2 linked regions of the Homo sapiens genome follow. The protein of the gene in region 2 purifies or fractionates together with the protein of the main gene of each other region. This does not show direct contact. Each region holds a gene or a part of one and is shown on either strand. Other genes may lie near its edges. The genes, in order: COQ8B and CHDH.

What was found.
Region 1: the proteins of CHDH (region 2) and COQ8B purify together in Homo sapiens (co-immunoprecipitation; one large-scale study listed by IntAct). This does not show direct contact.

The regions. Positions count from the first base shown.
Region 1 is NC_000019.10:40,706,851-40,710,663, forward strand, and holds part of COQ8B (atypical kinase COQ8B, mitochondrial), read right to left. Parts: intron 3,287-3,813; coding exon 3,209-3,286; intron 1-3,208.
Region 2 is NC_000003.12:53,844,007-53,847,919, reverse strand, and holds the start of CHDH (choline dehydrogenase, mitochondrial), read left to right. Parts: upstream 1-1,500; 5' UTR 1,501-1,837; intron 1,838-3,913. Other genes in the region: IL17RB (interleukin-17 receptor B precursor), read right to left, coding at 1,272-1,331.

The sequences.
Region 1 (3,813 bases), on a different chromosome or scaffold from region 2:
TTATTGAGAAATAATTCACATACTGTTATAATTCACCATTTAAGTTATATAATTCAATGATTATTAGTATATTCACAGAGTTGTGCAAGCATCACCAGAATCAATTTTAGGACAGTTACACCACGCAAAAAAGAAACCTGGCTGGGAGTGCTGGCTCATGCCTGTAATCCCAGCACTTTGGGACGTCGGGGCGGGATCACTTGAGTTCATGAGTTTGAGACCAGCCTGGGCAATATGGTAAAACCCTGTTTCTACAAAAAATACAAAAATTAGCTGGGCATGGTGGTGCATGCCTATAGTCCCAGCTACTCAGGAGGCTGAGGCAGGAAGATCACTTGGACCCAGGAGGTAGAGGTTACAGTGAGCCGTGATCCCGCCACCGCACTCCAGCCTGGGTGACAGAGTGAGACCTTGTCTCAAAAAAAGAAAAAAAAAAAAGAAACCCTATACCCATTAGCAGTCACTCTTCATTTCCCCCAATCTCCCCAGGCCTTGACAACCACTAATCTACTTTATGTCCCTACAGATTTTCCTATTTTGTACATTTCATATTAATGGAATCATTCAATATGTGGTTTTTCAGTGTGTGGTTGCTTTTACTTAGTGTTTTTTTTTTTTGAAACAGTGTCTCGCTCTGTCTCCAAGGCTGGAGTACAATGGCATGATCTTGGTTCACTGCAACCTCCGCCTCCCCGGTTCAAGCAATTCTCCTGCCTTACCCCCCACCCAAGTAGCTGGGGTTACAGGCACCCACCACCACATCCAGCTAATTTTTTGTATTTTTAGTAGAATCAGGATTTCGCCATATTGGACAGGCTGGTCTTGAACTCCTCACCTCAGGTGATCCACCTGCCTCGGCCTGCCAAAGTGCTGGGATTACAGGCGTGAGCCACCGCAACCGGCCTCACTTAGTGTTTTCAAGATTCATCTACATTGCAGCATGTGTCAGCCCTTCATTCCTTTTTATGGCTGGATAATATTCCATTGTATGCCTATCACATTTTATTCATCCATTCATCAGTTTTAAAGGTGTGCAGGGATCCTGAGACCAAGAAGTTTGAGAGCAGCTATTCTAGGGTTTCTTACTCTGGGTACGGACAAATGTACTTTGTGAAAACGCACCAAGCCATACACTTACAGGTATGTGTACCTGGGTTTATATGCAAATTACATTTCAGCTTTGGCAAAACATTTATTTTTCTTTTTTTAATATGAACACTTTATGAATTTATGTGTCATCTTTGCACAGAGGCCGTGCTAATTTTCTCTGTCTCATTCCAATTTTTATTTATATGTGATGCTGAAGCAAGCACAGCACAACAAAGCAATTCTTAAGCCTTTATTAATTTTGAAGGCCAGTTGTGGTGGCTCACAGCTGTAATCCCAGCACTTTAGGAGGCCAGGGTAAGAGGATCTCTTGAGCCCAGAAGTTCAAAGCTGCAGTGAGCCATGACTCACCACTGCACTCTAGCCTGGGTGACAGCAAGACTCTATCTCTTAAAATAAAATTTAAAATAAAATAAAATGTTATTGAGCTCATTATTGAGCTGTTCCAGGCAGAATCCTAAGTGTCTTTGTGGATTCTCTGGCTGAATGCCCACAATCACACCTGGAAGTAAGAATTATCAATCCTTTAATTTTCAAGGTGAGAAAGCAAGAGACTCAAAGAGGTGCAGCACCTATCCCTGGGTCACATAGCATGGAAGTGGCAGAGTGGGGTGTAGACTCAGGCTGGTCATACCCAAACCCTAATCCTCCACCTACCCTCAACTTTTTATTTTGAAAAAAATATCCAGGCTGGGTGTGGTGGCTCATGCCTGTAATCCCAGCACTTTGGGAGGCTGAGCAGGGAGGATCACTTGAGGCTAGGAGTTCCAGACCGGCCTGGGCAACATGGCAAAACCTTCTCTCTACAAAAAATACAAAAAATTAGCCAGGCGTGGTGGCACGTGTCTATAATCCCAGCTATGCAGGAGGCTGAGGTGGGAGGATCACCTGAGCCTGGGGAAGTCAAGGCTGCAGTGAGCCATGATCGTACCATTGCATTCCAGCCTGGGTGACACAGCAAGACCCTGTCTCCAAAAAAAAAAAGACAGAAAAAAATCCAAACAGAAAAGTTGCATGCATAATATCGTGAACACCTGCACACCCGCACACCCTCCACCTCGATTCAACATGGTACCATTCTGCTTCGTCTGCTTTATCTGTGCGTGTACCCACACACTTACTATTATTATTTTTTGCTGACCCACTTGCATGTAGTTGCACTTAAGCTTTGCTAAGAATAAGGATATTCCCCTACACAATCACAGTACCATAATCACATGTAAGAAAATTAACACCAATTCCTTAACATCTGCCATGCAGTCCATATTCAGATTTTCCATTTGTCTCCAAAAAGTCTTTCATGGCTGTTTTTTCCAAACTGATATGCAATCATGGTTCAGATGCTCCATTTGTCAAATAATGTCTCTTTCATCTGTTTTTAATCTGGAATATCCACCCCCACTTGTTTCAAGACATTGACTTGTTGAGGGAACCTCCACCTACCCTCAACTTTTTATTTTATTTTTTATAACGGCAAATGCTACACATCTAATTCCATCTCTGATGTACACAGACCCTCGCTGGCACTTCTATTTTCAGCTTTCTGCTCCTGCTCCAAGTTAGGAACTCCCAATGGCTTAAATGTTTTCTCAGATAATCTAATATGTGGCTGGGCACAGTGGCTCATGCTATAATCCCAGCACTTTGGGAGGCCAAGGCGGGTGGATCATGAGGTCAGGAGTTGAAGACCAGCCTGGCCAACATGGTGAAACCGTCTCTACTAAAAATACAAAAATTAACCAAGCGTGGTGGCATGTGCCTATAATCCCAGCTACTTGGGAGGCTGAGGCAGGAGAATTGCTTAAACCTGGGAGGTGGAGGTTGCAGTGAGCCAAGACTGCGCCATTGTACTCCAGCCTGAGCGACAGAGTGAGACTCCATCTCAAATTAAAAAAAAAAAATCTAATATGCTTCTCTTAATCATGACCCTGATAGTGGTTTAGGCCTGTTCAAAGCACTTCACAATGACTCTAAGAGGTGGGTAAATTATCACCACCTCCATCTTCCGCATGAGGAAACTGGAGCTCAGAGGGGTGAAGTCACTTGCCCCAGGTCACACAGCAAAGCCAGGATCTGAACCCAGGCAGTGTGGCTCACTCACCTGACTGCAGACGACCTCCTGGCATGGACTTCTTAGCCATCTCGGCCAGTACTCCTAGCCCCAAGCCCACAGCCAGTCCTGGAGTGCAAGAGAAGAACATGAGTGCCCGTTTGCCTGGGGTGCCCCCAGCCTAACCCACTCTCCTTTCTCAGTTTTTCTCCAAGAATGCTTGTCTCCCAACTCTTTTTATTTTTTCTTTTGTTTGAGATGGAGTCTCGCTCTGTTGCCCAGGCTGGAGTGTGGTGGCACAATCTTGGTTCACTGCAACCTCCACCTCCCGGGTTCAAGCGATTCTCCTGCCTCAGCCTCCCGAGTAGCTGGGATTACAGGCACGCGCCCACCACGCCTGGCTAAATTTTTTTTGTATTTTTAGTAGAGACGGGGTTTCACCGTGTTGGCCAGGCTGGTCTCGAACTCCTGACCTCAGGTGATCCTCCCGCCTCGGCCTCCCAAAGTGCTGGGATTATAGGCATGAGACACCGCACTCAGTCTTGTCTCCCAATTCTTTGTATCTCTGTTTCCAAATCAGTCTCTGACTCTGTTCCTGCATGGGGCTCCCTTTAAGGTGCAGCTTCCTCTTTCTTTAACCCTTTCTCCATGTCTCT
Region 2 (3,913 bases):
ACACCTTCTAAGATCTCCTTTTGATGGTTTGAATGATTTGAGTTTGGGCAAAATTGTCAATCATTTATTTGTCTTTTAAAAAATGAACTCTAAGGGATATCATCAGATTTTTTTTTCCTTTTTCTGAGACAGAGTCTCACTTTGTCACCCAGGCTGGAGTACAGTGGCGCAGATCTCGGCTCACTGCAACCTCTGGCTCCCGGGTTCAAGTGATTCTCCTGCCTCAGCCTCCGGAGTAGCTGGGATTACAGGCGCCTGCCACCATGCCCGGCTACTTTTTGTATTTTTAGTAGAGACGGGGTTTCACCATGTTAGCCAGGCTGTTCCCAAACTCCTGACCTCAGGCAATCCGGCCGCCTCAGCCTCCCAAAGTGCTGGGATTACAGGCGTGAGCCACCGAGCCCGGCCAGACTTGACTTTTTTTTTTTTTTTTTAACAAATGAGCCATCATACCAGGAGCTGAGTTCTTATCAAACGGCCGGTGAGAGGCCAAGCAACAACCCTAAATGCTACCAAGCTCAAATTGTTGGCCTTGCAGCAACTACAGCAAAAGGGATGAATTCTTCCCTTTAGTGCAAAGAGCCAAGAGGGCTTCTGAACTGACACAGAGGGGAAGGATAGGAGCTGAAGACATCAGGAAACAGTGAATGGGGTTTGTCCACCAGCAGGTGACTACGGAGCTTGATGCTATATGCTATTCTAAGAGGGCAGCGGTATCATTTCAAAGGTTATTTGGGGGATGAGCTATTTTCTCTTCAGTGACCCAGAAGATTCCCTCGATCATTCAGGGTACTGGGGAAGAAAGGCAACTGCCTTCACGAGTGAACATGGCAATCAATATGGCCAAAAAGGGAGGGGGTACTAATGGAGAAACAGTTCTTGTGCCCCAACAGGTGAGCAGACCCCAAGTAACAATAACTACGTGCCAGGCCCTTCGCCGCTAATTGCAGGCCATGTCGTTATACCTTAAGAGACCCTGGTGGGTTCGGTACTGCCCTTCGTTTTACCGTTCGGGACTTGGAACTTGGTGAGCATAAATGACAGAACCAACAGTACAGGGTGGCATCTGAGACCGGGTCTGTCTGATTCCCACGCCCCTGACTCAAGCAACCTGACGCCGATGTCCGGGGCTGCCCTGAGGGTGCAGGCATGCCCCTTGAGCCGGCAGTCCGCGCACGCCTTCGGGGCAGCCTGGACTGGCGGATCAGACGACGTCAGGATCTGGGCTCGAGGGCCGGGAGATGAGGGAAGAGGTGCTGGCGGGGGCTTACCGGCTCTCGGGGTACGGCGCTCCTGCACAGCGCGGCCAGGCTTAGCAGCACGAGCGACATCGCCGGGCCACTGCGCGGGATCCAGGCCACCCGCACGCTGCGCTTTTATCCCGGCGCCGCCGGGCCGCCCCTTCTCGGCTCCGCCTCTCGCAGCGCCGACCCATTCCCGCCACCCGAACAGAGGGCGGGCCCGCTGGCCCCCTCCCAGGCTGGGGCAGGTCGCAGCGCCCTCGCCTGCTGGGGCTCGGAGGGATGGGCCGTGTCCGAGCGCTGGCGGAGCACGGGCCGCCGCGGCGCGCGCCTACCCCCGCGCACACGTGCATGCAGTGAGCCAGGTGCATCAGCTGCACCCGCCCTCGGGCTTCGCGCGCCTCCGCTGGAGCCCAGCTAGCCTCGCGGCTCCGGGGCCGACCGGGTCGGAACTGCTGCGTCCCCATTCCGGACGCAGAGAGCGCGCGGGGCGCCGGCGCCGCCGGTTAAAGTGCCGCGGGGCAGGGGCCGGGCCGCGGCCACCCGCTCCTCCCGCTCCGGTCCCGACTGTCGGGCTCTCGGCCGAGTCGCCCCGGGTGAGTAGCCGCGGAGGCGCCCCGACCACCCCGCAGCAGCGCCGCCCGGCCGCTAGCCCGGAGAGGCCTGGGGGCCGGAGGTTTGGGGCCGGGCTGGACGCCGAGACCCGGGCCCGCTTTACACAATCGCCCCGCCGCGCGAAGCGAAACGGGTGGAACGCAGACTGCCGAAGCTCACTGACTCCTTTGAGGGAGCGAATTCTTTCAGCTACGCGGGGTTAGAGCGGTAGGAGTGCCCGCTGCCCGACCCCAGGCTTTCTGGTAAATGTCTGTTTCCACCAAGTGAGTTCGGACAGCAACACCTGGGGCTCCCAAAGCGGAAGCCGTCAGCACTGGCGATTTGGAGCTGCGGTTCTCAAGTTTCCCTGGCCCGGGATCTCTAGCGCCGCCTAAAATGAGATCCAGACGGCAGGTCCGGGTCAGGCCCGGGATCTGCATTTAACGAGCCTCCACCCACGCCCCCGTAATTCGTGGGTGGGTGGCCCAGGGACCATCCTTTGAGACACAGTGGGTTTGGGGGAAAGTTCACAAAAATCAGCTGGGCTAACAGTGGAGTCACAGAGGCTGGAACTGCTGCTTCAGCCCCCTCGGTTTGCAAACGACAGGGTTGTGGTGACCAACTCAGGGCCATTTAAACTTGTAGGCAGAATTAGCTCCATTCTACAGATGAGAAGACGGAGGCCTAGAGAGGGGTATGGAACTTAGGGGTGTGTTGTCAGCTGGTGAGAGGCTGTACTAAGTCAAGCAGCTGTTTTAGCTGAGGCCCTACTTGTGTGCCAGGCCTGGCCCACCTGCCAGCTTGATTAAGGCTTGCATGGACTGGGGATCAGCCAGGGGTTTGGGCTCTGGCATGCATACGTGTGGAGTTGCAGGTAGCATTTTCAGAGAATTGCTCTGTTTCCTGACCAAGGAACTCAGTTGAGGTTGTGGCCGCACCCCTGCCTGGGACTGGGCCACCCTGAGCCCCTCATTCCACCTCTCTGAGTTGCTTTGGGCCCTGTGGCCCTTGAGAACATTTTCAGCTCTAATAGTCATCTTCCTGTTCAGCAAATACCTGCTGGGTGCAAAGGTGAACCACACATGGGTGCTGGCTGATGGGTACTCCTGGAGTGAGGATGAGTGCAGTGAGAATTATTTTCAAGGACACAAGTACCCGCCTTGCTGCGGAAGCCCAGATGAAAACAGCCTCGTCTGCAAGCTCAAGATTGTGAACTTTGTCCCATGGTGCTGAGGAACAATGGTACAGGCTTAAATGGTCATCCATTTTTGGTTTTAGAAAGGCCACCTGGTTGGCTCTGCAGGGCAAAATAGAGGGCTAGTCCCTCTGAGACGAGCGAGCAGGCAGCCATTCACTAACATGCGTTCATTCCGTGAGTATCTGATTCTGTGCTGTGGGCCAGGCTCTGGGCTGTGCTGGCTTTTCAGTTGTGTGCCAGGGCAGGCCCTGCTGTGAGCTTGGTGTTGTTCGGCACACAGGCTTTGAGACAACCAGGGTGCGGAGGTTAGGCCTGGAGACAGGGTTCATGAGTCAGACTTTCTCAGGGGGCAGTGGAGAGGAGAGGAGGATAGAGCCCTGGGGAGGAGAGCTTGCCTGAGGAGGTGGGGAGGTCTAAGGGGCTGCAGCAGGAAAGCCCAGTAGTGAGGGAGGAGCTCATGGGGTCAGATGGGGCAGAGAGACCAAGGGCACTGAGGCTGGTTGGTGGCAGTCACAGGAAGCCTTGGCAAAAGGATAGGGGAGGGGGTTTTGTAAAAAGAGAAGGGCTGAGGTTCTTTCTCCCCCCAGGGGAAGAAGTGTCAGGTGAGGGTGGTCTGGAGGTGGCTGAGCTGTAAGAAGGAGGAGTACTCAGGCAGGGGCTGCCAGGCAGAGACCCAAGACCCAGGCCAAGTGGCTTTCCTGCTGTTCTGGGTTCAGAATGACACTGCCCTGGCCCCCTGGGGCTTAGGGATGGGGTGATACCTGGTTCAGTTTCGTAGTTGGGGCTGTGGAGTGGAGGAGAGGGTGTGAAGGGCCCTGTAGCCACAACTGGAGGTTGAGGTGGGCAAACAGGTGTGTCTGCCTGTCCCCTCGGGGGTTTT